2 separate regions of the Homo sapiens genome follow, and region 2 is linked to region 1. The links come from fine-mapping of genetic effects on gene expression. A gene starts in region 1. The other region holds a variant in brackets. All regions are shown on one strand. Distances are between the middles of the regions. Region 1 holds the start of TIMELESS (timeless circadian regulator). Region 2 overlaps TIMELESS (timeless circadian regulator).

Region 1 (16,269 bases):
ATCCTCAAGCCCCTTCACTCTACTGCTTCCTTGCCTCCCACCTGGTTTATCTGCTTCCTTCCTGTTAGGAACAATTGAGGTTATCAGACATGAACTCTCTCAACTCTCTCCACCCAAGCCTAAAAACATACATATTTCAAACACCCACCCTTAGTTCTTTGCTTCTAATCTAAGTACTCTGTGATCCTCATTAATCACTTCCTGTCCCTTAGTTGGTTATTCCTTATTTCCAACCTTCCCTTTATACTAGCCCCATCCCCATATATTATGAGTTGCTCAAGGCTATTCCATCTGTTTTTTTCTTTTGAGGCAGTATCTCAAAAGTGTAGTGATGTGCAGTGGTGCGATCTCGGCTCACTGCAGCCTCAAGCCCCCAGGCTCAAGCTATCCTCCGACCGCAGCCTCCCAAAGTGCTGGGATTACAGGCATGTGCCCCCACACCTGTCCTAGCTCATCTTAAGGGGGGAAAAATCCAACATAAAATAAAACTTTCCCCTTTGATCTCTTATTGGCTGTTCCTCCTCCTACTTAAGTGCTGATTTTCCTTAGGCCTGCATCTTTAGCCTTCTTCCCTTCTCACTGTACGCGGCCTGATTGGGCAAACTCACCCTCTCCCATGCACTTCAACTACCACCCAAGCCAGAAGCCAGCAAATCTGTATTTCTGGCCCCTCTGAGCTATTGAGTTGACAATCTCGTATGTTAAACTGACTAACTGAATAGCATTCTCTACCTTTATGTCTCAAAGATACCTTACACTCAATAGGTCTAAAGCTGAACTCATCTTCCCAAGTCTGTCTCCACTTTGGCTCTCTCAAGGACTGACACTATCTCCTCAGTGAAGAAGGCTAAGAGTTTCACCTTATTAAAAGAAACCTAGGGCCAGGCGCAGTGGCTCATGCCTGTAATCCCAGCACTTTGGGAGGCTGAGGTGGGTGGATCACCTGAGGTTGGGAGTTTGAGACCAGCCTGACCAACATGGAGAAACCCCATCTCTACTAAAAATACAAAATTAGCTGGGTGTGGTGGTGCATGCCTGTAATCCCAGCTACTTGGGAGGCTGAGGCAGAATTGTTTGAACCCAGGAGGTGGAGGTTGCGGTGAGCCGAGATCGCACCATTGCACTCCAGCCTGGGAAACAAGAGCGAAACTCCACGTCAAAAAAAAAAAAAAAAAAAAAAAAAAAAAAAAGAGGCTGGATGTGGTGGCTCATGCCTGTAATCCCAGCACTTTGGGAGGCCGAGGCGGGTGGATCACCTGAGGTCGGGAGTTCAAGACTAGCCTGACCAACATGGAGAAACCCTGTCTCTACTAAAAATACAAAATTAGCTGGGTGTAGTGGTGCATGCCTGTAATCCCAGCTACTCAGGAGGCTGAGGCAGGAGAATCGCTTGAGGCGGAGGTTGCAGTGAGCTGAGATCGCACCACTGCACTCCAGCCTGGGCAACAAGAGCGAAACTCTGTCTCAAAAAAAAAAAAAAGAAACCTAGGAGTCACCTTAGCTCCATCTCACTTAACTTCCTTAAGTTCTTCTATCAGTTGCTGTCTATCCTTCTATCCCAATTGCTACTGCCTTAGTTCAGTTCCTGAGTAGCTCTTGCTTAGGTTACTCAACCTCTTCCTATCCTCTTTCTCTGCCTCCAGACTTTTTTTCTTTTTTGAAAGAGGGTCTCACTTTGTCACCCAGACTGGAGTGCAGTGGTGCAATCACAGCTCCCGGCAGCCTCAACCTCCCAGGCTCAAGTGACTTTCCCACCTCAGCCTCCCAAATAGCTGGGACTATAGGGTACATCACCACACCCTGCTAATTTTTGTATTTTTTCTAGAGACAAGGTTTTGTCATGTTGCCCGGGCTGGTCTTTAACTCCTGGGCTCAAGCGACCCACCCACCTGGGCTCCCAAAGTGCTGGGATTACAGGCATGAATGCAGCTGCCTCCAGTCTTGTTCAATCTAGCCTCAATATGGTTACCTGATTTAGGCATATAACAATCCTGCTTAGAACACTTCAATGGATACATAAGAAACTTCATAGTGATCGTCTCTGAGAACTAGGGGATCTAGGATAGGAGAAATATTTGTCTTTCCCTTTGGTACTATTTGAATTCTTTACTATTAGCATGCATTACTATACAAAACTAAAGTTTCAGTGACCTCCAGTGCCTACAATACAAAGTCTTTCATGAATCTCTCTCCTGTTTACCTCTCACGCTTCTCTCTCAAGCCACTACTCTATCTAGAATGGCCTCCCATCCAAATATCAGCTTAGCTCTGAAGACTCTGTGCAGGCCAGGCGCAGTGGCTCATGCCTGTAATCCCAGCACTTTGGGTGGCTGAGGCGGATGGATCGCCTGAGGTCAGGACTTCAAGACCAGCCTGGCCAACATGGTGAAACCCTGTCTCTACTAAAAATAAAAAAAATTAGCCAGGTGTGGTGGTGGGTGCCTGTAATTCCAGCTACTTGGGAGGCTGAGCCAGGAGAATCGCTTGAACCTGGGAGACCACGCCACTGCACTCCAGCCTGGACAATAAGAGCAAAACTCCATCTCAAAAAAAAAAAAAAAGACTGCCCAAAAGGGACTTCCTCCTGACTTCTCCATACAGAAGTGACCTCCTTTTCCTTAATGTCTACTGTGTACCATATTCAGACTTCCAACATGGTACTTACAATTCATGTTGTATATAATAGTTAAAATCAAAGTCTATCTCCCTCCATTAGCCTTAGATTCCCTGAGGACAGGAATTCTTTTTATTTTTTTTTTTTTTGGAGACGAGTCTCACTCTGTCACTCAGGCTGGAATGCAATGGTGCAATCTCGGCTCACTGCAACCTCCGCCTCCCGGGTTCAAGTGATTCTCCTGCCTCAGCCTCCCAAGTAGCTGGGATTACAGGAAAATGCCACCATACCCAGCTAATTTTTGTTTTTTTTTTTTTTTTTTTTTTTTTTTAGTAGAGATAGGAATTCTTATTCACCCTTGAACTTTCAGAGCCTTGCTACAGGATCAGAATTTCCAGCGATGGGGCTTAGGCAAGTGTTTTGACAATGTTCCTCAGGTGATTCTAACTATCCTATGTTAACTGCACGAAAACGTAAACTCTTTCACATCAGGAATCATCATTACGCAGCACAATGTAAGTGCTCAATAAATGCTTTACTAAATTGAACTGAAACAGAGAAGTCTGGAAGATGAGGGAGAAGAGTTTGGAGCTAAAGATTTGGAGGCATCAGGATGTAAGATGGTGTGAGTGCAGTGAGAGGAGGAAGGAAGCCAGGAAGGACTTCTTGATGACCCTTTCACTGTAACCACAGAAGACTCAATTACATGTGTTTTCCTTAGGACTTGAGTTCCTTAAGGGTCGGGAACTCTCCATCCTACTCATCTCTGTAAGCCTGGCGCTAAGCACAGTGCATGGTACATGTTAGGAGCTCAGTAACCTTTTATTGATCTTTTATTGAGCTGTATCAGTGCCCCTGGTAATAGAGGGGGGTAAAAAACTTCAGGGACACACAGGAAGAAGTGACTAACTTGGCATAGGAAGCTGGATACATTGATTTTCAGAGGGACAATTAAGCTCAGTCTTCAAAGAGAAGTTCGCTTGGCAGAGCAGTGTCAAGATCTTCCAAGCAGAAGGAACAGCAGGAACTAAGTACTGAGATATGAAAGAGGGCAGCCACAATCTTTCCACGTGGCCAGGAGTCAGGTGCGTAAGAGATTTACAAAATGAGATTGAGAGGGTCAGGGCCAGACTGAGAGGCCACAGACACCCACCTACGGATTTAAGGCTAACTGTGGGTGGTCAAAGAGGAGTTTTAAATTTAACATCAGATGATCTACCTTTACTTTGTACAAAGTACTAGTAGGGCCGGGTGTGGTGGCTCACACCCGTAATCCCAGCACTGTGGGAGGCCGACGCGGGCGGATCATTTGAGGTCAGGAGTTCGAGACCGGCCTGGCCAACATGGTGAAACCCCATCTCTACTAAAAATACAAAAATTAGCCGGGCGTGGTGGCGGGCAGCTGTAATCCCAGCTCCTGGGGAGGCTGAGGCAGGAGAATCGCTTGAACTGGGGAGGCGGAGGTTGCAGTGAGCCGAGATCGGACCACTGCACTCCAGCCTGGGCGACAGAGCCAGACTCCATCTCAAAAACAAAACAAAACAAAACAACCAAAAAAAACAAACAGGCCAGGCGCGGTGGCTCACGCCTATAATCCCAGCACTTTGGGAGGCCGAGGCGGGCGGATCACGAAGTCAGGAGTTTGAGATCATCCTGACCAATAAGGTGAAACCCCCATCTCTACTAAAAAAAATACAAAAATTAGCCGGGCATGGTGGCGCGCGCCTGTAATCCCAGCTACTCAGGAAGCTGAGGCAAGAGAATCGCTTGAACCCGGGAGGCGGAGGTTGCAGTGAGCCGAGATGGCGCCACTGCACTCCATCCTGGGCGACAGAACGAGACTCCGTCTCAAAATAAAATAAAATAAATAAAAAATTGAAAGTACTAGTCGAAGCACGAATGGCAAAGAATTGAGAGGCTCAAGGAAAAAAGCTTCATTAGCGGCTGAGGTCCAGGTGACAAACCCGAACAAGGCAACGAAGGGAGGGAGTGAGAAATCCGTTCCATAAAACCCACGATATAAGTAAAGCGGCCTGTGAATTCCGACCACTGCTGACCGCCAGGCCACACACCGGTTTTTTTCAGGAGGTCTCAACTAGATGCTAAGCTCCGAAGTGGAACTCCCTCAGGCACTTTCTGTTCTAATTCAGGAATTCCAAGCCCCTTTCCATCACAACCCCATCCCGCGGGAGACCCAAGCTGTGCGGAGCAGCGTAGGGCTAAGCCCGCGTCCGGTGAGACCCGGGAACGCGGCGCGGGAGACTAAGGAGCAGAGTACAGAATTGCGCGTGCGCGCCTGCAGCACGAGCCCCGCCCCCTGGCTCTAAACCGGGTGGCGGGAAAAGGGACTCAGCGTTTCCCGAGAATGCCCCCATAGCTTCGAAAGGATCCCCGTGTCCGCTTAGCGCCCTCTCGCCACACACTCACTCACCCGCTCCCTGCGGGTCCTCAGAAGCCCGGAGGAGCCACCGGCCCTCTGGCGCGGGGCCGCAGCCTTTCCGCCACCAGGCTCAGCTGGACCGGTCCCCGCCTGCGCGAAGAGCGAGGCGGGGCGAGCCGGGCTGGTCCACGTGACTCCGAGCGAACTGGGGCGGAGATTGGTGAAGAAGGAAGGAAAAGGGAAGCGAGTGCAGGGACTGTTTTATGTGAGGTCGATCTAAAAATCACAGCGCTATGAATTTTCTGCTGAATTATAGTAGAATCAAAGTCCGATTAGAGGTGAATTTACAAACATTCTTCCCCTTCTTCTAGTCAAGCGGACTATTCCAAGTCTTAAATAGTTAGTTAGAAAAGTTAGGTTTTATTTGGGAGGAAGTAAAGAGCTGAAGTACAGGGAGGAATGGTCTTCTGGGATAGGGGATGTCCGTTGTATTATAGGTATAAATTTAAAGCTTTCAAAGTATGCAAGAGGCTCATAAAAGGAAGAAAGCAACCGTAAATATTCATTGAACAGTTGAGGGTCTCTTCTGGCCTCTGCTGAGATGATCTTGCCAAAAGGAAAAGAAAATAGGGCTGTGCTCTGGCCCCCTGTAATCCCAGCTACTGGGGAGGCTGAAGCAGGAAGATCGCTTGAGCCCAGGATTTCTAGACTGTAGTGTGCGATGATCGTGCCTGTGAATATCCATTGCACTCCAACCTGGTCAACATAGTAAGACCCCCTCTCAAAAAAAAAAAGAAGATAGGGCTCAAACAAATAATAATCTCCTGAATTATTAAGCATTTGAATAGAAGGAATCAATTTCTGGGGTATGAGGGAGTTAGAAGAGATTTGCTTCAAGATGAAAGGACGGATGACAGAGAAATGAAAATACACAGACACAAAACAAGAAAAAAAACACGGAACTAGTGATAAAAGCAGAAAGATGCCATTTGAGGAGTGTTTTGATTTGCTCTAAATAAATTAGAACAGAGTCAAAGCCTCTCCCCTCATGCCCCCTACTACCACCCGTTCATTTATTTGCTCCAGGAATCAGATTTCCTGTGTTGGCCTTAGGGAACAATTGTGGGGCTTAAATACCATCTGCCAGGCAGCCACAACAGTGGATGTCAGGCTGACCAGTTAAGCTGCTTAATTTTTCTAGATTCTAGGCTTGCCCAAGCTCTATTTAGGTTGGAAGCTCTTTGGCCCAGGACCTCTGAAGAGATCCATTATGTCAGAATGAACACAACCAGCCAGCGGATGTAGACAGGTTTACGTGGCTTTACAGAACAGCTAAATCCTAGTGTTCACTTTTCTCAGAGCTACTTCCCCACCCAAGTCCCTGGGGCAAGCATCCCTAAGATAAGTAGGCTATATATTCCCATTAACTTCCCCCCAATTCTTCGGTACACCTACATCCTGATCTGGGGCTAATACTCCGTTTTCACCACCCACCTCCCTTGAGTCCCTTCTCCTAACCCTTGGAAGCCTTGTCTCCTCCACTTCTCTCCATCTGCCTCGTGTGAGGAGTAACTCCCTGCTTCTCTGTTCCCTCAGAAATCAAGAGCCACACACTTGACTGGCAGCAGGGTAAAGGCCAGAAACTTAAGGTGTCGGTTACCCAGTACTCACCATACTGGGTCGAGGAAGGGAGGTATAGGATGGCACCTCTTTTTGCTTCCTTAGCTCTCATGCCCCAAAACTCAGACACAGCCACACTCACATTCATATGCACAATCAGCACACACGGCGAAGGGTGGTGGGATGGGGAGGAAGGGAAGTTTGCACCAACCAGCTCATGAATGCAACTTGAAAGATTTCACACAGCAAAAGGAAAAAAAAAAAAAAAACAACCACATACATAAGTTAAAAAATAAAGAAGTACATGACCCTCCCCACAGTCTCTTTCTTCATCTAGGGGCTGGCTAAACCCCTCCACGTAAACTCAGAAGCTTTCTACTCCCTCTATTCAGCTGGAGCTTCTACAGGGCCTGGGTGTTCAGTTCAACAGGTTCCCCTGTGACCTCTGGTTGTCCATTGGAGACATCGGGTTTGGCACCCTTGAGGACAGACAGTCTCTCAGAAATACTCTTGAGCCGGGGGAAGAGAAGAAAGTCGTACAGGAGGCTGCCCAGACCCCCTCCAATGATTGGGCCTACCCAGTACACCTGTAGAAAGAGAAAAGGAATACTCAGGCTTGGGGAGGGGACAGAGTAGCAACGCTGCTCTTTTTCCAGCCACCTTAGTGGAAAACAAGATATTGTACACTTGATATCTACAATAAACTCACCATTTATTTTCTGATTCATCAAATTACTCCTTTATCCCACACCTTAGCATGTGTATATTCTATTTGTTATCAATTTGCACTAGTTTGTATGTTGCTTTCAAAAAAATTTTATACATTGTGGTAAAACACATATAAAATTTACCATATTAAATATTTTTGGACAGGCGCAGTGGCTTATGCCTGTAATCCCAGCACTTTGGGAGGCTGAGACGGGCGGATCACAAGACGGGCGGATCACAAGGTCAGCCATTTGAGAACAGCCTGACCAACAGGGAGAAACCCCATCTCTACTAAAAATACAAAAAGTAGCTGGGCGTGGTGGCAGGCGCCTGAAATCCCAGCTACTCAGGAGGCTGAGGCAGGAGAATTGCTTGAACCCAGGAGGCGGAGGTTGCAGTGAGCTGAGATCCTGAGATCAAGCTCCACTGCACTCCAGCCTGGGTGACAGAGGGAGACTCCATCTCAAAAAAATATATATATGTTTTTAAGTGTACAGTTTAGTAGTGTTAAGTATATTCACATTGTTGTGCAACCTATGTCTAGAACTTTTTCATCTTGCAAAGCTGTAACTCTATACCCATTAAACAACTGCCTATTCCACCCCACCCCCATCAGCCCCTGGTAACTATCCTTCTACTTTGCGTCTGTGAATTTGAGTACTCTAAATACCCCATATAAATGTAATCATACAGTATTTGTCTTTTTGTGACTGGCTTATTCACTTAGCATAATGTCCTCAAGATTCATCCATGTTGTGGTATGTGTCACAATTTCCTTCCTTTTTACAGGTAATATTCCATTTATGTATATACCACATTTTGTTTATCCATTCATCCACTGAGGAACACTTGGGTTGCTTTTACCTCTTGGCTATTGTGAATAATGCTGTTATGAAAATGGGTGTACAGCTTTGAAAAATTTTTAAATTATTTCCATATGTTTGGCTTGCACAACATCAACATAACCAATATTTATTGAGTGCTTACTTTATATCAGATTCTGTGCTAAATGTTTCTCACATATAACTTTCACACATTTCTCGTAATGTCCCATTTTATAGTAAAACAAACTGAAGCACAGAGTGATTATTTGCCCATGGTCACACACAAAGCCGATAACGTATTAGAACTGGAATGGGGCTGAGGCCCATCTGTGCTCACAACACATCTTGATCTCTGAGAGCAGAATTTATTCTGCTCATATTTAGTTGTCTCTCTTCATACCCGCTAGTTCAGCAACCAGTGAATACTCAGTGCATACTCCCTGACTAACCAGAGAAGGAAAAATATGAGCAAGAGCCTCTCCTTCTAGCAAAATCATGAATCCTGCTCACACAGGCATGCCAAACTCTCTGACAGCCCCCTTAGCTGAGTGCTGGTACAGCAGCCAACACACGCAGAAGGAAAGCAGGAATCCAGCCTGGAACCTGCAGTCCACAACCATCCAGAAGGGCTTCAGGATCTTGCCCCTCTCCCTTCACTCACCCAGTGGTTAGTGAAGTTCCCAGTGAGAATGGCAGGAGCAAAGGAGCGGGCAGGATTCATGCCTGCACCAGTATAATACATCTGCAAAAGAGACAGTTGTAACTGAGACACCCCCCTACTGCACCCCAGCTTCTCTCCCCACAACCCACATTGCCCCTGAGAGCTGCCATCTTTTCTCCAGCCAGCAGCAAGTGGAGAGGGACAGCCTGCATGACTCTCCAGGGGTTCCTGCAATGGGGTGAGGGCAACTGATGCCCTGTCTGGGAACAGACTATGGATCCATAGGCAAAGCCCATGTCTAGCCATGATACGTTCATTTCTACCTTGGGGTCAAGAAGGACTAGATATAGCAGTCACAAGAGAGGGATAGGGCAGAGTTGATTCCTTTGTGCCAGTAGAGAGTGCAATGGACAATGTTCATGTTTGACAGTGAAGTAGGCAGGAAGAACCCTTAAAAGTTGGGAAAGGTTTAGGGGCCCCGGAATCCTTGAATGAGAAGTTGCTCTCCTTCCTGCTTACCCCAAAGAGGTGCCCCAGGGCAAGGGAGAAGCCAACGGCCAGGGCCACGGAGCCCAGTTGGCCATTCCGCCTCTCGTCGTATGTGGCAAAGATGCAGAGCACGAACTGGAGCGTCAGGAAGATCTCCACTGTGGTTGCCTGGCCCACGCTCACCGCAGGGTGCAACTGTGCAAAGGAAGAAGAAGAGAGACAGCTCAGGAGGGCTGCCACAGTGTTACCTCCTCAAGACTTCCCCGGCAAGGATCTCGTTACGGCATCAGGTCCGTGGAGAGGAAGGATAATACAACCCCCTTCATAATCATTGTATTTGCATCTTACCATCTCCTAACAGTGCTCCTTCATGATGGAAATGATTGCAGCCACTTACATGTATGAGGAAACTGAGGCCTTGAAAGGTAAAATAAGTTTCCTTAAGAACCTGCAAGGAGTTGGAAGGAAAGCTGAAACTCAAACTCAGGTTTCTTAATTCTCAGTCCAGGGCCCTATGCCTTCCTTAAAGCTCTAAACCACCTGTCAATCCTCACCACTTCAACACACACATGCTCACACATGCACATATTGTCCCAGACCCCAGGGGAGCTGATTCACCTGCACCAGTCAGGGAGTCAGGGCAATAGAGAGACAGGACACCAGGTTCCCCATCCCCTCTCAGCCAACCATTACCGTGTTGAGTGCTAGGTTTCCTCGGACAGCAGGTGGGGTAACGCTATACAGCACAGCGGCCCCAGCCACAGCTCCCAGGAGCTGGGCTGCCATATAGCAGAAGGCACGGAGCAGGGACATCTGGGAGCCCACAAGGAAAGCAAAAGTGACTGCAGGATTGACGTGGGCTCCACTGATGTGGCCCACAGACTGCACCAGTGTAGCCAGGGCCAAGCCAAATGCCATAGCCACCTGCAGAACATGCAGGGGTCCAGGAGCCCAGCGCAGTGAGGACCCCAGCCCAAAGAAGACATAGAAGAGGGTGGCAAAGAACTCAGCGAATATGGCCCTCCAAAAGGAGGCTGATCGCAGTTCCCACATGGCAGGGGGGATGGTCACAGTGCCTGGGTCCCTGCTACCCCCATGGCCTTGTCTGGGTGGACAGTCCCCTTTATAGAGGACTCTTAATCCCTGGGAGGGGCAGGCTGAGGTAGCAGGCCCAGCCTCTTAACCCCTTCACAGCTGTGGAGGGCTAAGTCCCCTCCCCTACATGGTAAAAATGCTGGATTTTCCCGCCTTTCTCAACTGGGAGATGAGCCGAGAGAGCCATGGCAGTGAGGGTGGGATTGGGGTCACAGCAAGAGAGACTACGAGAAGTGGGGGTGAAGAACAGCAGGACTGGAAGAGTCTGCCCTTCTGTGTGTGTCAAAATTGGGGTTCATTGTCCTGATTGACATCAACATTAGAATACTCTTCAGCTCTCTTTGGAAGGTCCATCAAGCTGAGCTCACTTCATGGCATTTGGGGCTGAGCTCCTGGGGGCCTCAGCCTCCTCTGAGTCTGCCAGGGGTAAGGGTTGGGGGGAGTGGTAAGGAGTGGGGTTCAGCAGGGAAGTTGGATAACTAAAGAGAATTCTTTAGTTCCCAGGGATTAGAAGCCTTTCTCCCATTGGCTAGTTTGGGCTGGAATCTGTGGACCCTGCAGCTCTGGGACAAAATAGTTCTGCTGCGTCTGGCTTTCTCTGAGCCCGGGTTCCCTACCCCCAGTCCATGACAGCACCTCCCTTTTCAAACCCTAGGCCTGGCTTTTTAAACTACAGGGACCGACAGAGAGAAGACACTATCATCCCTGCATGGGCTGGGAGTGGGGTTGGAGGGATAGGAATAAGAAAGGGACTCGTAGTTAAACCTTAGAATCAGCTTGTATTTCATCTTTCCTAACTCACATGGTCATAGCAAGAAGTACTGAAAGGAAGGAAACAGTCATGGCTATGAAGCAATGGGAAGGTCTAATGTCCTTTAATACAGCCATGATCAGCACACCCTAAGCCTTGATCCCCAGGGAAAGGTATGGGTGTGCTGGGATCAGATCTGGGGAAACAGCCGATCAAAGAGAGGGAAAAGGATAATATGGGGAAGGAAAGTTTGGGGAAAGAGGTTCAGTTGTGCTCGGGCTTGGTGAGGGACTTGGGACCTAGGCGTGGGGTTGTGTGGTGATGGAGAAGGTAGAATGGGACATACTGATAGGTTCTACCATCTCCACATAGTGGCAAGTCATACCGGCCACAAACTTTTCTCATGAAGCACCAGAGAGCAGAAATTCGAGGTGAGGCCTGCAAGAATGGTGCCCAGCATGGGTCCTACCCAGTACACCTGTGGGGAGAGAGAAGGAACACAGATCAGGGGCTGTGCTTTCTCCTCATAATACCCAGCTTGGGGATGGACAGAAAGAGAGTTATAGTGAAGGTAGAGGGTCCATCTAACCTATCCACTGGCAGGAAGAGTTGCTGAGAACAGGTCAGAGAGCACCCAAAGGGTTTGGAGCTCTCAATTACATAGAAGAGAAACAGTCCACTAGAAGTCATTGGAATCTCCTATATTCTAGAAGCCTCATCAGTCTCCTGACTTAAGGCCCTGTAACCCTCAGTGCATCTCACCCAGTAATGCTCCCAGATCCCAGTCACCACTGCTGGCCTCAGGAAGCATGCAGGGTTCACACTGCCTCCAGAAAAGTTCCCCTGGACAGGATAAAGAGAGAGGGTAGCACATCATGGTGTTAAGAGCAGAGATTTTGGCCACAGATACTCTGGTCCAATTAGGTGAGGATAAAAAGTGACAGAACCAGCTGGGTGCGGTGGCTCACGCCTGTAATCTCAGCACTTTGGGAGGCCAACGCGGGTGGATCACCTGAGGTCAGGAGTTCGAGACCAGCCTGACCAACATAATGAAACCCCGTCTCTACTAAAAATACGAAAAATTAGCTGGCCATGGTGGTGGGTACCTGTAATCCCAGCTACTCGGGAGGTTGAGGCAGGAGAATCGTTGGAACCCGGGAGGCAGAGGTTGTGGTGAGCCGAGATCACGCCATTGTACTCTAGCCTGGGCAACAAGAGCGAAACTCCGTCTCAAAAAAAAAAAAAAGAACCAGTTACAACTGCTGGTGGGAGTATAAACTGAGATATTACTTTTTTTTTTTTTTTTTTTTAGACAGGGTTTCACCCTGTCACCCATGCTGGAGTCGAGTGGTGCAATCACAGCTCATTGCATTTTCAACCTCCTGGGCTCAAGCGATCCTCCTACCCCAGCCTCCCAAATAGCTGGGACTACAGGTGTTTACCACCATGCTCAGCTAACTTTTTTATTTTTTGTAGAGATGGGGTCTCACTGTGTTGCCTAATCTGGCCTCAAACTCCTGGGCTCAAGTGATCCTGTCACCTCAGCCTCCCAAAGTGTTGAGATTACAGGCGTGAGGCACTGTTCCCCACCTGAGATAATGACTTTGGGACACAGTTTAACACCTACTTATAAAGATGAACAAATTACATAATTTCTTTTTTTTTTCTTTGAGACAGAGTCTCACTCTGTTGCCCAGGCTGGAGTGCAGTGGCACAATCAGCTCACTGCAACCTCTGCAATTTTTATGTCTCAGCCTCCCAAGTAGCTGGGACTATAGGTGCCCACCACCATGCCCAGCTAATTTTTGTATTTTTAGTAGAAACGGGGTTTTACCATGTTGGCCACTCTGGTCTCAAACTCCTGACCTTAAGTGATCTGCCCCTCTCAGCCTCCCAAAGTGCTGGGATTACAGGTGTGAGCCACCATGCCAGGTCAAATTACATAATTTCTGACTCAGCAACTCCACTTCTCACTTATATACCCACGAGAAACTTGGGTAGCACATCGTGTAACTTTATGTAATTGTTGGCTGGGGGCAATGGCTCATGCCTGTAATCCCAGCACTTTGGGAGGCTGAGGCAGGCGGATCACCTGAGGTCAGGAGTTGGAGACCAGCCTGGCCAACATGGTGAAACCCCATCTCTACTAAAAATACAATAATTAGTCGGGCATGGTGGTGGGTGCCTGTAATCCCAGCTACTCGGGAGGCTGAGACAGGAGAATCGCTTGAACCCGGGAGGTGGAGGTTGCAGTGAGCCAAGATTGTGCCACTGCACTCCAGCCTGGGCAACAAGAGCGAAACTCAGTCTCAAAAATAAAATAAAATAAAATAAAATAATAGTAATTGTCAAGGTTCTAGTTTTTCTATTGGATGGATGGTTAGAAATGATGCTTAATTATCATTATTAAAAACAAATAAGTGGGAGCCATATATATAGGCCAATGAGGAGAGGATATCATGAACAACAAAATATTCTGTGTACCCCAAATTAATTAAAAACAGCAGTGACAACAATATATGCTTTACCACTTTCTAGTTGGGCAAGTTATCCCCGCTATATATAGGTTCCAGGAGGGCAGGGCCCATGTCTGATTTTTCACCAGTGCGAACCTGGTGCTTAACACACAGAAGGCAGTAAATAAATATTTGCCGAATAGATTAGATTAGCATAAGCTTGCTTGCTTTTTTTTTTTTTTTTTTGAGACAGAGTCTCTCACTCTGGAGTGCAGTGGTGCCATCTCAGCTCACTGCAACCTCCACCTCCTGGGTTCAAGCCTCCCAAATAGCTGGCATTACAGGTGCACGCCACCACACCTGTCTAATTTTTGTATTTTTAGTAGAGACAGGGTTTCACCACGTTGGCCAGGCTGATCTCGAACTCCTGGCCTCAAGTGATCCGCCTGCCGAGGCTTCCCAAAGTGCTGGGATTACAAGCCTGAGTCACTGCACCTGGCCAGATTAGCATAAGCTTTCTGAGTCTCAGTTTCCTCTGTATCAAATAAGATAATGTAGGTAAAGAGACTAGTACAGTGTCTGGCACAGAATAAAGCACTTAAAAACAGGAGCTACCTGCACCTGTAGTCCCAGCAAATCAGGAGGCTGAGGTAGGAGGATCGTTTGAGCTCAGGAGTCAGAGAGCAGCGTGGGCAATATGGCAAAACCCCTCCTGTACAAAAAATACAAAAATTAGCCAGGCACAATGGCACACACCTGTAGTCCCAGCTACTGGGGAGGCTGAGGTGGGAGGATGACTTGAGCCTGGGAGGTAGAGGTTGCAGTGGACTGAGATGGCACCACTGCACTCCAGCCTTGGTGACAGAGTCAGGCCCTGTCTCAAAAAAAATTGAAAATTTGGCTGGGTGCGGTGGCTTACACCTGTAATCCCAGCACTTTGGGAAGCTGAGGTGGGCGGATCATCTGAGGTTGGGAATTCAAGACCAGCCTAGCCAACATGGCAAAACCCCATCTCTACTAAAAATACACAAAAAAATTAGCCAGGCGTCATGGTGTTCACCTGTCATCCCAGCTACTTGGGAGGCTGAGGCAAGAGAATCACTTGAACCCAGGAAGTGGAGGCTGTGGTGAGCTGAGATCACACCACTGCACTCCAGCCTGGGAGACAGAGTGAGACTCCGTCTCAAAAAAAAAAATTATAATTAAAAAATTTAAAAAGTAAACAGAAGCCACTCAATGGGGTTTTATTAACAGGAATGGGTTATCTCTACCCACTAATCCTGTAGCCTCTTATAATAAGAGATGGAACAGCAAAGGGCAGTTAATTCAATCTCTTATAGACGACAAATAAAATGGCTAGCTTTCCTTATCTGCAGCTACCATCCTCTTGCCTCTATTCTTCATCAAACATTGACAAGAATTCCATGGAGAACTAAACCTCGGCCCATTTCCTTTGACATCAGTCTCCCCACTTAGATAAATGCCAGCCTCTTTCAAACCTAACTAGAGATGAACTCTTAAAAGCTTACTTGAGTTTTTGCATAGATTTACATACAATTAGTATGCTTATTGTTTTCTACTAGCCTAGCCTTTTATTTTTATTTTTTTTACAGACATAGTCTCACTGTGTTGCCCAGGCTGGAGTGCAGTGGCGCTATCAAAGGTCATTGCAGTCTTAAACTTCTGGGCTCATGCAATCCTCCCACCTAAGCCCCCTGAGTAGCTGAGACTACAGGCACGTGCCACTGCACCCAGCTTATTTAAAAATTTTTTGTAGAGATGAGGTGTTACTGCGTTGCCCAGGCTGGTCTCAAACTCCTGGCTTCAAGCCAACCTACCGATTCTACCACCTCAGCCTCCCAAAGTGCTGGGATTACAAGCATAACCATAGAACCTGGCCTTTTTTTTTTTTTTTTTTTTTTTTTTTTTTGAGACGGGGTCTTGCTCTGTCTCAAAAAAGGTGAGACTCCAGGCTGGGGTGTAGTGACGCAATCTCCCAGGCTCAAACAATCCTCCCACCACCTCAGCCTCCCAAATAGCTGGGACTACAGGCATGCACCATCACACCTAGCTAATGTTTGTATTTTTTGTAGAGATGGGGTTTTGCCGTGTGACCCAAGCTTATCTTGAACTCTTGGGCTCAAGCAATCTGCCTGCCTTGGCCTCCCAAAGTGCTGGGATTACAGGCGTGAGGCACCTCACCCAGCCTTAGCCTAGCCTTTTTAACAAAAAAACAACAAAAAACAAATACAATCCAGGCGCAGTGGCTCACGCCTGTAATACCAGCCCTTGGGAGGCCGAGGCGAGCGGATCACGAGGTCAGGAGATCGAGACCATCCTGGCTAACACGGTGAAACCCCGTCTCTACTAAAAATACAAAAAATTAGCCGGGCGTGGTGGCAGGCGCCTGTAGTCCCAGCTCCTCGGTAGGCTGAGGCAGGAGAATGGCGTGAACCAGGGAGGCGGAGCTTGCAGTGAGCCGAGATTGCACCACTGCACTCTAGCTTGGGCGACAGAGCAAGACTTCATCTCAAAACAAAAAACAAAAAACAAAAAAAGGCTGTGTCTCCCTTCAGAAGTGGGATGCACCTGTGGTCCCAGTTACTTGGAAGGCTGAGGCGGTGAGCTGTGATGGTGCCACTGCACTCCAGCCTGGGCAACAGAGTGAAAC
Region 2 (16,269 bases), 40 kb before region 1:
CTCAGGAATAAAGGTTTGGGTCATTCCACCAGGAAAAAAACCATGACCTGCTGAGGTGCTTGCTGAAGGCAAAGGGAATACAGAATGGGTAGTAGAAGAAGGTAGTCATCAATACCAGCTATGACCACGTGACCAGTTGCAGAAACAAGGACTGTAATTGTCATGAGTATTTTCTCCTTTTGTTAAAAACACGCTTATGCATGTAAACACTTGTACTAAGAAAATATCTTCATTTTATTTCCTTTTCCTTTATCATGTGACATAAAATTTATTGTTGTCCTATCAGCATTTAGGTATTGTTAACTTTACGTAATAATATTGGGGTTGGGGTTTGGTGCATTTCTGGTTATGTGAAGGATAGTTGTATTATGTTAGGCACAATTATGACCTTATTATTGGCTTTATTCGAAGATTATGTATGATCTTAGGAGATGTGTATGGGTTCAAGTTGACAAGCGGTGGACTTGTGATGGTTAATACTGAGTGTCAACTTGATTGGATTGAAGGATGCAAAGCATTGATCCTGGGTGTGTCTGCAAGGATGTTGACAAAGAAGATTAACATTTGAGTCAGTGGGCTGGGGAAGGCAGACCCACCTTTAATTTGGTGGGCACAATCTAATCAGCTGTCAGTGAATATAAAGCAGGCAGAAAAATGTGAAAACGTGAGATGGACCCAGCCTCCCAGCCTACATCTTTCTCCTGTGCTGGATGCTTCCTGCCCTCAAACGTCGGACTCCAAGTTCTTCAGTTTTGAGACTCGGACTGGCTCTCCTTGCTCCTCAAGCTTGCAGACAGCCTATCATGGGACCTTGTGATCATATAAGTTAATAATTAGTAAACGCATATATATATATATACACATATATATACACACATATATGTACATATATATGTACACATCTCCTGAGATCATATATAATTTTCGAATAAAGACAATAATAAGGTAATAATTGTGCCTAACATAATACAACTATCCTTCCCACAACCAGAAATGCACCAATCACCAACCCCAATATTATTGCATAGTTAACAATACCTAAATGCTGTATATATATATCCCTAATACAACTGTGAAACAAAATTTCCGGTAAAGCAGTTTCCATGGCAGTTTGATATTTAAAGGCCAAACTCCCCCAGACTTCAAAGAACACTGGGGTCAAACAGCACCAAAGGAGAGCATCACAGGCTAACCAGGCCCCCTGCTTAGAACAACAGCATAAAAGCCTGGATACAGGCAATGGCATCCCACTTTCCCTTTCAGCAGTAACTCCAGATTCCATGCAATACTGGGGCCAAACAGTATTGCAACTGCGAAAAAGTTCTAAGGAGGGCTTATTAGTAGACCTCAGAACCTCTGCCAAAAGCATCCTCTTTGGAGAGGTGGAAGTCCAGAGGATCCCCTGGAGCATCCCCCTTTGGGATCCAGTCTTACTCTGACCTTAGGTGGGCACCAGTGCCACTTTACGTTTTCCCTCCAGAGGCAACGGCCTACTATGAGCTGTGTAAGGCCATACTTTCTCATGCTTCCTGTTCCACTAGAGTGATAGCCATGAACTAAAAGGCATTACAGCTTTATTTTTCTTTCGAAATATTTGATTTAAACACTTATTTTCCTTTAAGCCAATCAGTTAGAGCTCTTTTATATAAACATGACACACCTGACACATATATATCCACACAGAAACAGACAGAGATCCAGTAGTTTTAAGATTTTTCATGTGCCAATCTCCTAATTGCATTGCTGGCCCTGGGGTTAAGCCCTTTAAGAAGCAGGGCCAGGAAAACATGTAGTTTCTATGGCCTAATAAGTATGCATAACTGGAAGACAAAAACATTTTGAGAGGGATCCATCTGCTCCTAATTCCTGGGGCTCCATGAGGAAAACAGAAGTCTTTCCCAAAATGGGTCAGTGGCACCTCTTTCATTTTCCCAAGGAGTCCCAGGCCATCAGAGGATATCTTGGGGCTCCTCATGTGCGCATCAAGAGTGGCAAGACAAGAATGGAGAAAGATAATTCAGTCGACTGAGAAGAAAAGACCCTTCACCAGAAAAACAGAGAAATGACATAAAGGCCTTTTAAGTATACCTAAAGCTTGGATATCTATGAACATCTACTTTTAGTTAAGCTAACTTTTAACCATAGTGCTCCTTTTAAAGAAGTCCTTTTAAATCTTTTTTTCTTTTTTAAGGCAGAGTCTCACTCTGTCGCCCAGGCTGGGGTGCAGTGGTGCAATCTGGGCTCACTGCAACCTCTGCCTCCTGTGTTCAAGCGTTTCTCATACCTCAGCCTCCCAGATAGCTGGGACTACAGGTGCATGCCACCACACACAGCTAATTTTTGTATATTTAGTAGAGACAGAGTTTCACCATGTTGGCCAGCCTGGTCTTGAACTCCTGACCTCAAGTGATCCACCCACCTTGGCCTCCCAAAGTGCTGGGATTACAGGCGTGAGCCACTGCACCCGGCCCCTTTTAAATATCTTACTACCCAACCTTAGCCATGCCAAAAAGGCCAACTGAACCATGGAGTAGAGAATACAGTGATTTATATCATTCCTGCAACCAGTTTGCATGGAGAGAGAGAAGCCAGAAGTCCCACAACTTTTACCCTTTTACTGGCATGTCAGGCTTCTGGGTTCCCTTCCCCCAAGCCATGGAGCCCTATTGGCCCTGAAGTCCTGTGAAGGGGAAAAAGCTTTTTTCTTTCTCCAGAGTCTGAGGGTCAAAGGAGTCCAGTGATGTAGGATGCACTCCACCCATGAAGTGGGGGGGACTAATCAGCAGGAATTAGCCATGCTCACCTGTGCTGTGCCCTGACTCCTGCTGTCATCTGCCTCAGGTCTAGTGTTCCATTCAAGGGATTCAAACCAAAGCCTGGGACAAGAAGATGCCTCAGGAGTGTATGAACCCTTTAAATTAGTCCCAGATGGCCCTTGCCAAATTGCAGCTAGCAGCTGGCAGGGGGCACTCCTCTGTTGCTTCCCTATCACAAGCAGGTGAAGCTGTGGGGGAAGGTCCTCCTCAAATAAGGGAGAGAAAGGGAGTCTCGGGAATAGGGGACCTGGCCCAAGGTGACAACTAAAATGTTGGGCTTTTCCTGAGATGTACCTCACAGTCATGCTAAGAGAGGGGGGTGCCTAGATTGGAGAGGAGAACTGAAAGGACCGCTTGAGTCCAGGAGGAAGTCCATTCTCCTTCCCTTGATCCCCAGAATCACCCAGGGCTCCTGGATGGTAATGGTGGTCTAAATTACCAAAGCCAGGGAAAGGAACCCCGGGACCCATCAGTTCTGCTGCATCATTTGGGAGACCAGCCCTGTACCTGGGGACTGGTGTCTTGGGAACAGTCCTCCCTCCAATGGTCCATATTTGTAGCAGTCAACAGGTACAACTTAGGAGCTCTGTGGTTTGTGAGCCTGCAAGCTGGCTATTAGAGCCTCTGCCTTTTTCTTGTGTTTCCTTTCCTTCTCTTGGGCCTCCTGATCCCTATAGTAAAAGACCGAGGTGGCCGCTTTCAGGAGGTCCTCTAAAATACTACCTGGTCCTATGGCCTGCTTCTGCAGCTTCCTCTTGATATCAGGGGCTGACTGAGTAGTAAACTCATTCCCTATGACCAGGTGTCCCTCTATTGAATCAGGAGATAGAGGGGTGTGTTTTACCAAGACCCCTCTTAGCCTTTCCAGGACATCAGTGGGACTCCCATCCAATCCCTGATGTACCACAGATAGCCCAGTGCAATTCAGAGGCTCAGTTCCAGTCCCTCACAAGCCCTCCAATATGCACACCTGAAAGAATTTCTTCTTCCATTGTCCCATTTCATTACTGGGGTCCCATTTAGGGTCCTCTAATGGCACTGGTATTCTTCCAACTGGAAAAGGCTCTTCCTGTTCCCTGGCCCTATACAAGATGTAAAGCTCATCCCCAAAATTCTCTGCCACTTGACGAGAGTGGCCTGCTTTTCAGCAGTGTTCAGGGTTTGATTCAAAAGTAACATGGCCATCCTTCCAGGAGAGCTAAAATACTTGGGTTAAGTTCTGGAAATCCGTTTCTTTTTTTTTTTTTGTTTGAGACGGAGTCTCGCTCTGTCACCCAGGCTGGAGTACAGTGGCGCGATCTCGGCTCACTGCAAGCTCTGCCTCCCGGGTTCACGCCATTCTCCTGCCTCAGCCTCCCGAGTAGCTGGGACTACAGGCGCCCGCCACCACACCTGGCTAATTTTTTGTATTTTTAGTAGAGACGGGGTTTCACCGTGTTAGCCAGGATGGTCTCGATCTCCTGACCTTGTGATCCGCCCGCCTCGGCCTCCCAAAGTGCTGGGATTACAGGCGTGAGCCACCGCGCCCGGCCTGGAAATCCTTTTTATATTTTTCAGGGCCATCTCAAAACCTGCCAAGATCCCCCTTAATTTGCCTTAAGTCCTGAAGAGAAAAGGAGACCTGGACCTTAATGGGGCCATATGCACCAGGCATCTGTTGCAGGGGCAGGAGTGAGACTGGGAACAGTCTAAAATTATTTCTAGGATGAGGCAAGCTTGGAAAAGCACCTGGATAGGGAGGTGCGGAGGGAGTTGATTCCCCCGCTGGAGGTAACTCTGGGATTTGCTTCTCCAGTTCCCTGGGATTGCCCCTTGCAGCCTCTCCTGAGATGGCCCCTAGGAGGGCTGAATCAATTCTACAATGTTGGCAAAGGTCTGGGGCACCCTGCAAGGCAAAGGCCTGCACATAAAGGACCTTGGACTATTTGCCTTCGTGTTTACAGAAAAGCTTTTTTCCTGAGGCAATGCTTCTTTTCTGTGCCTCAAGGTGCTTGGCCCTAAATTGGCAATCAAGTAAATTACAAGAACATTTTCACCACAAATTTACATACAGATATGACGGCACACTTTGCTTTGTGGTACCCTTAACCTTCTATTTTATACTTGATGACTAAGCCAAATGCTCATTTTATCCAGAAATCTCTCTGGTTTGCAACAACATCCTTAACATTTAAGGATGTTGCCGCCCTATCACAGGCAGGTGAAGCTGTGGGGGCAGGTGTTACAATTTAACATTGTATATAAAAGAGATAGGAACCATGACAGCCTAGAAAGCAAGCAAGAAATAAACAAATAACAATAAAAAAGATTGGAGGTCCTAGTGTCAACACCCCAATGGGCAGTCGGGGACTGGAGTTAGTCCAAGGGCCTTTGGATAACACCAAGGTATGGCCTCGGCCAGATACCCTGTTACCCTAGGACCTCCTTCCAGTCCCATGCGACAGCTAGACCTCAATGAGGGGAAACTGGGTTGGAACAAAGCCAACATTCCCAATACTCGAGGGTGATGGGGGGTTGACAGTGTCCTCCCCGGCAAGCCTGTCCTCCATGTCTTAAGTCTGGCAGCTGTGCTAGTTACTTTTAACTGGCTGACAGAGGCCTGGTATTTTTCCTTCATTTTTACTATTGTGGAGTTTAGAGACTCTGAAAAAAATGGACAGAATTGCTTTTACTCACCCTTCTGCAAATCCCGGACAAGCCTCCAAAATATTATGGGATCTCTGGGGTGTAAATGTTTTCTGGCTACAAACCTCTGTGGCCGTGGTGCCTGAGTTCTTGTCCTTAATCCAGGAAAAACAAGGGGCGCAGACAAATGAAGGGTGAAGAAGATGAAGAGCTGTATTTAGTGTTAGAACAGCACAGAGAAGGCCGGGCACAGTGGCTCATGCCTGTAACCCCAGCACTTTGGGAGGCTGAGGCAGGTGGATCACGTGAGGTCAGGCGTTCGAGACCAGCCTGGCCAACATGGTGAAACCCTGACTCTACTAATAATACAAAAATTAGCTGGGAGTGGTGGCGCACGCCTGTAATCCCAGCTACTAGGGTGGCCGAGGCATGAGAATTGCTTGAACCTGGGAGGCAGAGGTTGCAGGGAGCTGAGATCACACTACTGCACTGCAGCCTGGGCAACAGAGACTGTCAAAAAAAAAAAAAAAGAACAGTTCAGAGGAGACCCACAGTGGGTAGCTCCTCTTCGTAGACAGCTCATCCTGTGGAGTGTTCAGCTCTCAGCAGAGACAAGGCCCTGGAGAGGGTGGCCCATGGTATCTCTGCCTTCTTTATCCTCTGGCCATCCTGTGCCCTGCTCTGGCTGAACCCATGGACCTCAGAGGGGAGAAAGTGTGTGCCAATTGGCCCATGAGCAGGCCTGGAAGAGGAATCACAAGTCCCCACTCTGGTCCATGGGACTGGCAGCCCAGCTCCCAGCCTTCAGGTCTTCCCTGGCCCAAAGGTGGGGGCCTTACTGGGGACCCACCCCCTTCTGCCCAGGAATCAATCTCTCTCCTGCTGCCATTCATGGCCCCCAGGCTTGGCCCCAACCCCTGCTCCAAGATTGGAGCGGGCACCAGTAGTGGAGAGAGGGCAGGCAGACACCCCTGAGCCTGCAAGGATGAGGGAGGGTCCTTCCTGGGGCCCCTAAGGGTGCAAGCTGAAGAGACACCTGGCTCCTGCACCTGGGAGGGTAGCTGCAGCGGCACCCGGGAAGGTAGATCCTGCTTGCTCCTGGCCCTCCCACAACAGCACAGAGAGGCTCCAGTCTACAGCTGCGGTTTGGGTGGCTGTAGCCCAGCCCAGGAGGGTGGGGGTCCTGCCTGCTTCATAGAGCAGGAGGCCTGGATCTGCAGCTGCAGTTTAGGCAGCTGCAGCGGCACCCCAGGAGCTCCCATCCCAACTCAGAAGGGACAGGGTTCCCAATGGCTCCATGGAGTTTGCAGCCCCAGCTGCACAGTTGGCATGATGGCAGCAGCCTCTGCCACCACCAGCACTTTGGGAGGCTAAGGCAGGAGGATCATTTGAGCCCAGGAGTACAAGACTAGCCTGAGCAAGATGGTGAGATCCCATCTCTACAAACATAAACAAAAATTTAAAAATTAAAAATTAGCCAGGCATGGGTGCCTGTAGTCCTGCTACTTGGGAGGCTGAGATGGGAGGATAGCTTGAGCCCAGGAGTTTGAGGCTGCAGTGAGCTATGATCACATCACCACACTGTAGCCTAGGTGACAAAGAGAAACCCAGTCTCTATTTAAAAATAATAATAACAGAACTAAAAGAAAAAAATAGATAAATCCAATATTATAGTTGGTGACTTTAACACGCTTCTTTCAACAACTGATAGACTTACTACGTACAAAGTCAGCAAGAATATAGAAGAACTTAACAATATCATCAACCCATCTAATTGACATTTATAGAATACTCCAACAGCAGAATGCACATTCTCAAGTACCTATAGAACACTCACCAAGGTATACCATATCTGGGCCATAGAAGAAACCTCAACACATTTAAAATAATTGTTTTTTTTTTTTTTTTTTTTTTTTGGTTAAGAGACAGGGTGTTGCTCTATTGCTCAGGCTGGAGTGCAGTGACACAATCATAGCTCACTGTAACCTCAAACTCCAGGGCTCAAGAGATCCTCCTGCCTCAGCCAACATGTCTGGCTGATGTTTGAAATTCTTTGTGGAGACAAGATCCCATTATGTTGCCCAGGCTGGTCTCAAACTCCTGGGGTAAAGGGATACTCCCACCTCAGCCCCTCAAAGTACTGGCATTATTGGCATGAGCCACCACATCTGGCCAGCACGTTTTTTAATCATTGTATTTTTCATCATTGTGTATCCTGTGGATATCAGGTGATGTTTATTTTGGATTCTGAACACCACATATACAGCTTGCCAAAAAATTAGAATTCATCCCTTCTATTCCTATCCAATTTTCTTATAGCACAAAACTCCCAGCCCCAGGTTCTAAGCTATGGCTCTTCAGCGAGACTCACCTCTAGCAGAGAGAACTACCTCTGACCCATTGGCCTTGTCTGACCAGTTCTATCTGAGCAGCATAGTACAAAGCTGTGCCAGTTTATAGTAGTGTCATGGGATTCTTGGGATGTCACTTTTCCAGCTGGAAACCTCTGTGGCCAGTGGTGCCTTTGCCCAAGTGTTGCTCGGGCTCACTGTGTTTGTTCCACCCACTTGGCCTGGCAGGCTGTGCTCTGCTTGTGCTACTGGCCTGGATTCCATGCCTGCCATGGGTGAACCAGATGTGCAGCAGCAAGGGGTGTGTGAGCATGGGGTCTGGCCACACTGTGCACAGCCAGGCATGCCGGCTGCAGCAGACAGGGAGCTCCAGGCACCGGCTCCATGTGAGGTTGTGGCTGGACCAGACATACTGCAAGCAGCTTCCACTGCAGGCACCAGGGAATGCGGTGGCACCTGGGAGCTTGGAGACACCAGGAACCACAGAGCCCCAAAGAGGGTGTCATAGCCCTGGCTCTGGGAGCCCCTGGGTCTGGGCTTCTCAAAGAGCCACAGCTCTTCTCTTCTTCTAGTCGCCCACATAGTGGCAAGCAGTGGAGTGACAGGGCCGGGCGGGGGGGGGCGGCAGGCGTGTTTCAGCCCTGTTTGTGTTACAGCTCTTTCAGTTCCACCATTCCTTGGGTCCTGAGTTCTTGTCCATATCCAGGAAGAATGAGGTACACAGACAACTGGAGGGCAGGGCAGAGAGGAGCTTCATTGAGCGACACAGCAGCCCTCAGGAGACTGGCAGTGAGTAGCTCCTTTCCACATGCAGGTCGATTCAATGTCTCTGTGAGTGGCTGAGTCCAAGGTTTTCATGGGCTTCAGAAGGGAGGAAGTGCATGCTGATTGGGCCATGGATGGCCCAGAATAAGCATCATGAGTTCTCATTCTGGGCGATGGACTCCACCCAGAAGTGACAGTCCGGCACCCAGGCTTCAGGCTGTCCCTGGCTTAAAGGTGGTACTTCACTGGACCTGCACCTTTCCACCCAGGAGCCTGCCTTCTGCCACCATCAATAATGTCATCCACGGGACCCAAGCTGTTCCTGCTGAGGGGCACTTGCAGACCCCTGCCAAGTCACCCTTGGCTCCCCCTCAGCCCCTCTCCCATGCTTGTCAGTGTACAAAGTTTAGAGGGGGCCAAGGTGGCAGGGGGCTGGTGTGTCAGCACCGCCAGGAGGGTGTGCACACATGGCCAGGTCACAACAGTGCTGGGCTTGGCCTCAACTTTGCTCTAAAAACAGAGTGGGAAGAGGCTAGGCAGTGGGAGCATGCACTTCTGAGTCTGCGGGGGCAGTGAGGCTTCGTAGGCCCCTAAGAGCATAGGGATGCCTGGATCCACAGCTGTGGCTGTGCTGCTGTAGCTGCACCCAGGAGGGTGGGGACCCGCCAACTTGAAAGGGGGCGGGGCTCCTGCCTGTTCCTGGCTCTCCCTGGTTCTGTGGAGCATGCAGCCCTCACCACACCTCCCCAGCCGCAGCTGGCGTCTTTGCAGTGACCACTCCAGATGGGCTGCCACTGCCAGGAGTAGGTTCCCACTCCTGGCAAAAACTGGAACACATTGTGCTCAGGATATTCCTGCCCCTGCTCACAGTACTCAGTGGGAAAGACACATCTGGCTTTTCCTGGGTCTGATTGAAGCCCGTCTTAACACCTGCAGAACAGAGGCCATGGTATCACCTGGCATGCTCCTCCTTATGCCACTGAAATTCCAGAATCCTTGGAGCTGGTGTGTATGGGACTATGTGGCTTTCACACATCCCACCCTGTATAGCCAAATCTTCAGGGCCTGGCATCAAGTTTAGGAGTCAGCCTGCTCCAGGGCTTTCCTTAGTGCCGGGCCTACTAGATCCTGGGTAGAGAGGACATATGGAAGACACCAGGCAGGAACTTTGGAAGCCAGGTCTGGCAGAACCAGGGCTCTGCAAATAC[G/A]AAGCAAGGGACATCAGGGCCTTAGTTTGGGTTCCATATGAAATGGCAGCCAGAGTGTGTGCAACATGTAGCAGTAAATGATCAGCTGAAGTGGGAGTTAGAAAACAGACCGTTTCACTCACCCATTACCTCCAGGCTTGTGTTCATTTTAGGTTAAAGCCCAGTTACATAGGAAATGGTACCGCACTGATCTTATTTGACTTCTCCTATTCCCTGGTCACCAGGGCCTTCCTCTGCTTCACTTTCTACTTAAATATTTGAGAGCACCAAATTACCAGAGGGTAGTCAGTGAGAGGTGGGCTTTCCCAGGTAGGTTATTCCAGTCCCAGTTCTCTGTCTCATGAGAGGGGACAGTTGCTTGTCTCTAAGGTCAGTAAGGGCACAATTTTGGCAAACATTTGCCTATTTGCCCTGTGGTGTTCTGCTCAGATCTCCCTTCAAGAGAACACAGAGTGAACATTCTATTTGGCCGACAGCTTCCACTCTTTAGAATGTTCTGCAGTGATCACAGCAGCATCCCTCTCTACAGGCTGCTCTGAGACAATGACAGGTGGACAGTGCTAGAGCCCAGCCAAGTCGGCCAGACATGGGACTCCTCAGTCATGTAATCTTCATTCTGGGGCTCTGTATCAACTTGGCCAAGATTTTCTGAGTAGCACTGTAATTTTTCTCTTTCTCCCTTTCATACATGTGTGACTGTCATCGTGATCTATAGGTTCTCCCAATCTATACCTGAATTGATATGTACTGACTAATCAGAGCTTGTTTAGGTGTCAGAAATGCCGCAAAAGCAGTATCTACCTCTTGCTCCCACATTCCCAGCTTAATCCAAGAGACCCAGAATAAGGAGAAATCAGACGGCTGTGATTCAAATATGTAAGAAATAGCTTTTTACTCCTCTTCTCATTTAAAAATTTCCAAAGGGTAAATAAACGGAAAAGGACAAAAATACCTCTTGTGCCTAATAAATAGTAAATTTTCTTTTTTTTTTTTCTTTTTTTGAGACGGAGTCTCGCTCTGTCACCCAGGCTGGAGTGCAGTGGTGCGATCTCAGCTCACTGCAACCTCTGCCTCTTGGGTTCACGCCATTCTCCTGCCTCAGTCTCCTGAGTAGCTGGGCTACAGGTGCCCGCCACCATGCCTGGCTATTTTTTATATTTTTAGTAGAGATGGGGTTTCACCGTGTTAGCCAGTGTCTCGATCTCCTGACCTTGTCATTCTCCCATCTCGGCCTCCCAAAGTGCTGGGATTACAGGTGTGAGCCACCATGCCCGGCCAATACATAGTAAATTTTCTATACTGATAAACACTGCTAGAAGAAACTGGAGCTGGAAATTTCAAAGAGGGATGGAAAGTCAGGGTCCAGTTCTGGACATTTCTTAGAAAGGCAGCCACGGCCGGATGCGGTGGCTCATGCCTGTAATCACGCCACCGGCTCATGCGGTGGCTCAAGCACTTTGGGAGGCTGAGGTGGGAGGATCATTTGAGGTCAGGAGTTCCAGACCAGCCTGGTCAACATGATGAACCCCCATCTTTACTAAAAATACAAAAATTAGCCAGGTGTGGTGGTGCATGCTTGTAATCCCAGCTACTCAGGAGGCTGAGGCAGGAGAATTGTTTGAACCCAGGAGCCAGAGGTTGCAGTGAACTGATACTGCGCCACTGCACTCCAGCCCGGGTGACAGAGTGAGATTCCATCACAAAAAAGAAAAAAAAAAAAAAAAAAGGCAGCTGCTAGGCCGAGCACGGTGGCTCACGCTTGTAATCCCAGCACTTTGGGAGGCCAAGGCAGGCGGATCACCTTCGGTCAGGAGTTCAAGACCAGCCTGGCCAACGTGGTGAAATCCTGTCTCTACTAAAAATACAAAAAATTTGCGGGGCGTGGTGGCTCGTACCTGTAATTTCAGCTACTTGGGAAGCCGAGGCAAGAGAATCACTTGAACCTGGCAGGCAGAGGCTGCAGCGAGCCGAGATCATGCTGCCACACTCCAGCCTGGGTGACAGAGCGAGACTTCGTCTCCAAAAAAAAAAAAAAAAAAAAAGGCAGATACTGGGGACAGCAGGACACAGCAAAGGAGCAGCACAGCCCGGATCATGGAGGGAAAACAGAGCAGCCCTGCTGGAAGGAAGCAGTGCTCAGGTTGCGAAGTGAAGAAAAGCTCAGGATGAAGAGACACCAAGACTGGCCAGAGCTAGAAAGTGTCTAGCCCTTGGAAACTTCAATTACCATGGAAATAGCTTCACTCCCACTTTTAGAGGCTATGGGAGATCCTCATCTTTTCAGGAAAAAATAAAAATGAAAAGTCAAAGCAACAGGGCAATCCAAATCCATCCTTTACTTAGAAGCCTTCCTGAGCTGAATGGCTATTTTCTCAATCTCACCTTTGCCCTACCTCGGCTGGAAGCACAGGAAGCAAGAAAGCTGACGTTTCCAAGAATGGGTAAGAACATAATATTTGCAGTATTTATCCATCCTTTTCATGCCTAGATTTTGTCCTTTTCTATGCCCCATGCCAACAAGCTGGCTTCTCTTCCTTTATGGCTCCTCCTTCTTCCTGCCGCATACTCTTGTCACCCTAAGAATTTACCCTAGACAAAAGGATCTAGAGGCAAAAATGCTTTTCTGTGTCTTCTGTAGGGAAAGCGGAAGAAAAGGGAAGGTTGTTGGTCTTTTTTTTTTTTCTTTTTTTTTGAGACAGAGTCTTGCTCTGTCGCCCAGGCATATGCACTGGCGTGACCTTAGCTCACTGCAACCTCTGCCTCCTGGGTTCAGGCAATTCTCCTGCCTCAGCCACCCGAGTGGCTGGGATTACAGGCGCATGCCACCATGGCCGGCTAATTTTTGTATTTTTAGTGGAGATGGGATTTCGCCATATTGTCCAGGCCGGTCTCAAACTCCTGACCTCAGGTGATCCGCCCGCCTCAGCCTCCCAAAGTGCTAGGACAACAGGTTTGAGCCACTGTGCCGGTCTGTTGGTCTCTTTTTACCCTAAAATTGTTAAGTTCTTCTTTCAAGAGCACAGCAGGGGAAGGGCTGGGGAACTTAGACATATCGCCAAGTCAGACTGAGATGAGAACTTCTAATCTTACATGTTTAATACCAAACACAAAGCAAACACATTCATCATCTAGAGTACTATATTCCAACCCTATCTCAAATGCAGGAATGGGCCTCTATCTGGTATCTAGAGGATGATCATAGGAAACAAAATGAGGACAGAGGCATCTGGTATCTTCTAAAAGTGGTACAAAACTCCCGCCTGTCATGTCATAAAGCTCCCCATCTGGTGCTGCGACCCACCTCCAAGAGAAAGCCAAAGGAACAGACCAATAAAAGGGGTCCGGGGTGCTTTCTCTATTTCACTCACTCCTCTTATTTGCTAAGGAGCTCCAATAACCAAAAGAAATGGTTCCTAGAAGAAGAGAACTAAATCTCCAGAGAGCTGCTGGGGCATACCGATAAAAACTGGGAGAAACAAAGACTGACAGCAGAGAAGTCCAATACTGCTGCTGAAGTTTCTCAGCCTAAATCCGTGAAAGAGCCTGGGATTCTACTGCTCTGTCCAGTAAGAGGAGCTTCTGGGTCCTGTATGACCCTTCCAACTCTGACTTGAATGCACCATCTAAAAACGTGTCTATCTCTACCCCTAGGCTTCTTAGCTCTTCAGTCATCCTCATCATCCTCAATCTGGTATCGTTTCTTCTTTTGGATTCCTGGAGCTCCCAACTCTGGTGCTGTGGGAACGATGGGGGTGAGAGAGAGAGAGAATATCTAAATATGTTAAGGGGTAAGGACGTGGTAGAGTTTGTCTTCAGGATTAGAGAAGAAAAAGAAGGTCCCATCAAATTCCCTACCTCTGTTCCTGCCCTCATCTTCTTCCTGTTCCTCGTCGCTGTCCAGCAATTGTCGTTTCTTGGGTGCTGCCTTCAGCGGCTCTTTACCAACAGCGTCTTCCTCTGCAATGACCATAAATGACACAAAATTAGGAACTCGGTCCTCATATTCTCAGAACACCTTTCCTGCCCTCTAGACCAACATGGCTGACACGTTAATACTCAGAAGATGGCTGTCGCACTATTACCCTCTGGGGATGCCAGGCCCGCTTTCTTCTTGTGGGCTAGCAAGAGGGCCCTCAGGGCTTGTGCTCGGTGCTCTTTACAGTGCTCCTCATCAGAGCCTTGCTCTCCAGGGACTTTAGGCTGCAGCTCTGGCTGCAGCTTCTGTTCCTCCTCTGGTTGACTCAAAGAAGCTGCTGCCCTCCGGAGCTGGGTAGGACTCAGCTTGGCTGGAATTCGCCAGAAGGTTTCCTACAGGGGCCAAAAAGTTGAAAAGGGAAAGGACCAGCTTTTTGTTTCCCAGAGTATGATATTCATTGAATATATATGACCCAATATTGGTGAAGATCCACAAGGGTTGTGAACTCTATTTATTATAATACTTACTATCTAATATATACCCAGTGCCTAGCACAGTGCCTGCTACATTAGGAGGTTCCCAGTTATAGGTTTTTTTGGTTGTTCTTTTTTTTTTTTTTTTTTTAAATGAGAAGGGGTCTGCCTCTGTCACTCAGGCTGAAGTGCAGTGGCACAATCATGGTCCACTGTAGTCTCGATCTCTTGGGATCAAGCTATCCTCCTGCCTCAGCCTCTCAAGTAGCCAGGACCACAGGGGTGCATGCCACCATGATGCCCAACTACTTAAAATTTTTTGTAGAGACAGGGTCTTGCTGTGTTGCCCAGGCCAGTCTCAAACGATCCTCCCACCTCAGCCTCCCAAAGTGCTGGGATTACAGGCATGAGCCACTACACCTGGCTATAGTTGTCAATTGAATAAATAAATAAATAAATAAATCCTGGGGATGTAAAGGTGAATCAGGTATGATCCTTGCTATCAAATAACTCACAATCCAATGGGAAAAAGAACAAATGTACTGTAGTATCACAGGATTTTTTTTTTTTTCTTTTTGAGGCAGAGTCTCACTCTGTTGCCCAGGCTAGAGTGCCGTGGCAAAGCAATAAAGGCTCACCCTCCTGGGTTCAAGCAATTCTCCTGCCTCAGCCTCCCAAGTAGGTGGGACTACAGGTGCCTACCACCACACCGGGCTAATTTTTGTATTTTTAGTAGAGACAGGGTTTTGCCATGTTGGCCAGGCTGGTCTTGAACTCCTGACCTCAGGTGATCCGCCTGCCTCAGCCTCCCAAAGTGCTGGGGTTACAGGCGTGAGCCACCATACCCAGCAGATTCCACAGGATTAAGGCTGCATCAGGGGCATGAACAAATCACAGCTGCAAAAGTGATTATTTTTACTTCAGGGGTTGAAAGAATGACAAGGACTGCTTCTCTGACAAGGTGACAATTGAGCAGACTCTTGAAGACTGGGTAGAGGTCCATCAGTAAGACAGATGGAGTGTGTGTGTGTGTGTGTGTGTGTGTGTCACCCTGTGTGCACGGTTGCAGCCTTCCAATAGAGGGACTGGCATGATTAACCATTTGGAGGCATGAAAAAGCCTACCAGGGTGACTATGATGTAAAGTCGGTGTGTGAGTGGTGTGGCTGTGAGGCTGCAAAGGTTGGCCAAGGATGGGGATGCCATTTGGAGTTTGTGGATTCTGTCCTGCAAGCAGTAAGGAACCATCAATGGCTCTGGACAGAGGACTTGACCCTCCATATCCACAAGTTCTGAGTCTGTGGATTCAAACCACTGTAGATCGACAATATTAAAAAAAAATAACAATACAACATTAAACAATAATACACAGCCTGGGCAACATGGCATAACCCCATCTCTACAAAAAATACAAAAAATTAGCTGGGAGTGGTAATATAGGCCTGTAGTCCCAGCTACTCAGGAGGCTGAGGTGGGAGGATCACCTGAGTCTGGGAGGTTGAGGCGACAGTGAGCTGAGACTGAGCCACTGCACTCCAGCCTGGGTGATGGAGTGAGACTCTGTCTCAAAAAAAAAAAAAAAAAAAAAAAATATATATATATATATATATGTGTGTGTGTGTGTGTGTGTGTATATATATATATATAAATAAAATGTATATATATATATTTACAATACAGTATAACAATTATTTACCTAACATTTACATTGTATAGGTATTATATGTAATCTAGAAATGACGAAGTATACAGGTTGTACCTAGGTTATTTACAAATACTACAAAAAGGGACTTCAGCATCTATAGATTTTGGTATCTGTGGGCAGGGGGGTCCTGGAACCAATCCCCTCTCAGACACTAAGGGACAACTGTAATCAAGACTATATTTTAAAAAGATAAATCTGGAGGCAGTCTGGAAGATGGATCTAGGGGAAGGGGAGATTAGAGAGAGGAAAAGAAGACTAGCAGAATGGCTGCTGCAGGAATCTTGGTCAGAGATGACAAGACAATGAGAAGGACCAAGATGACGATAAGGATAAGGAGGACCACCATGACAGTGAGGAGGAGGAGGAGATGTATTTGGAAATAGGACTAACACGCCTTGGTTGACACTGTAA

The links.
Region 2: its variant is fine-mapped to the expression of TIMELESS in whole blood (TOPMed, PIP above 0.99).

The regions. Positions count from the first base shown.
Region 1 is chr12:56,444,265-56,460,533 of GRCh38, forward strand. TIMELESS (timeless circadian regulator) reads right to left here and starts at 5,162. Exons shown (of 29, transcript NM_003920.5): 1 at 5,046-5,162. MIP (major intrinsic protein of lens fiber) reads right to left here and starts at 10,393. Exons shown (of 4, transcript NM_012064.4): 1 at 9,990-10,393; 2 at 9,327-9,491; 3 at 8,808-8,888; 4 at 5,238-7,201. The coding sequence starts at 10,349. The coding sequence ends at 7,016. RefSeq lists enhancers at 4,043-4,563, 4,586-4,705, 4,816-4,905.
Region 2 is chr12:56,404,287-56,420,555 of GRCh38, forward strand. TIMELESS (timeless circadian regulator) reads right to left here. Exons shown (of 29, transcript NM_003920.5): 27 at 13,848-14,073; 28 at 13,621-13,722; 29 at 12,077-13,500. The coding sequence ends at 13,430. Among named protein-coding and RNA genes, the nearest start is that of TIMELESS, 37 kb to the right of the region's middle. The variant G/A (reference allele first, on the strand shown) is at 9,766.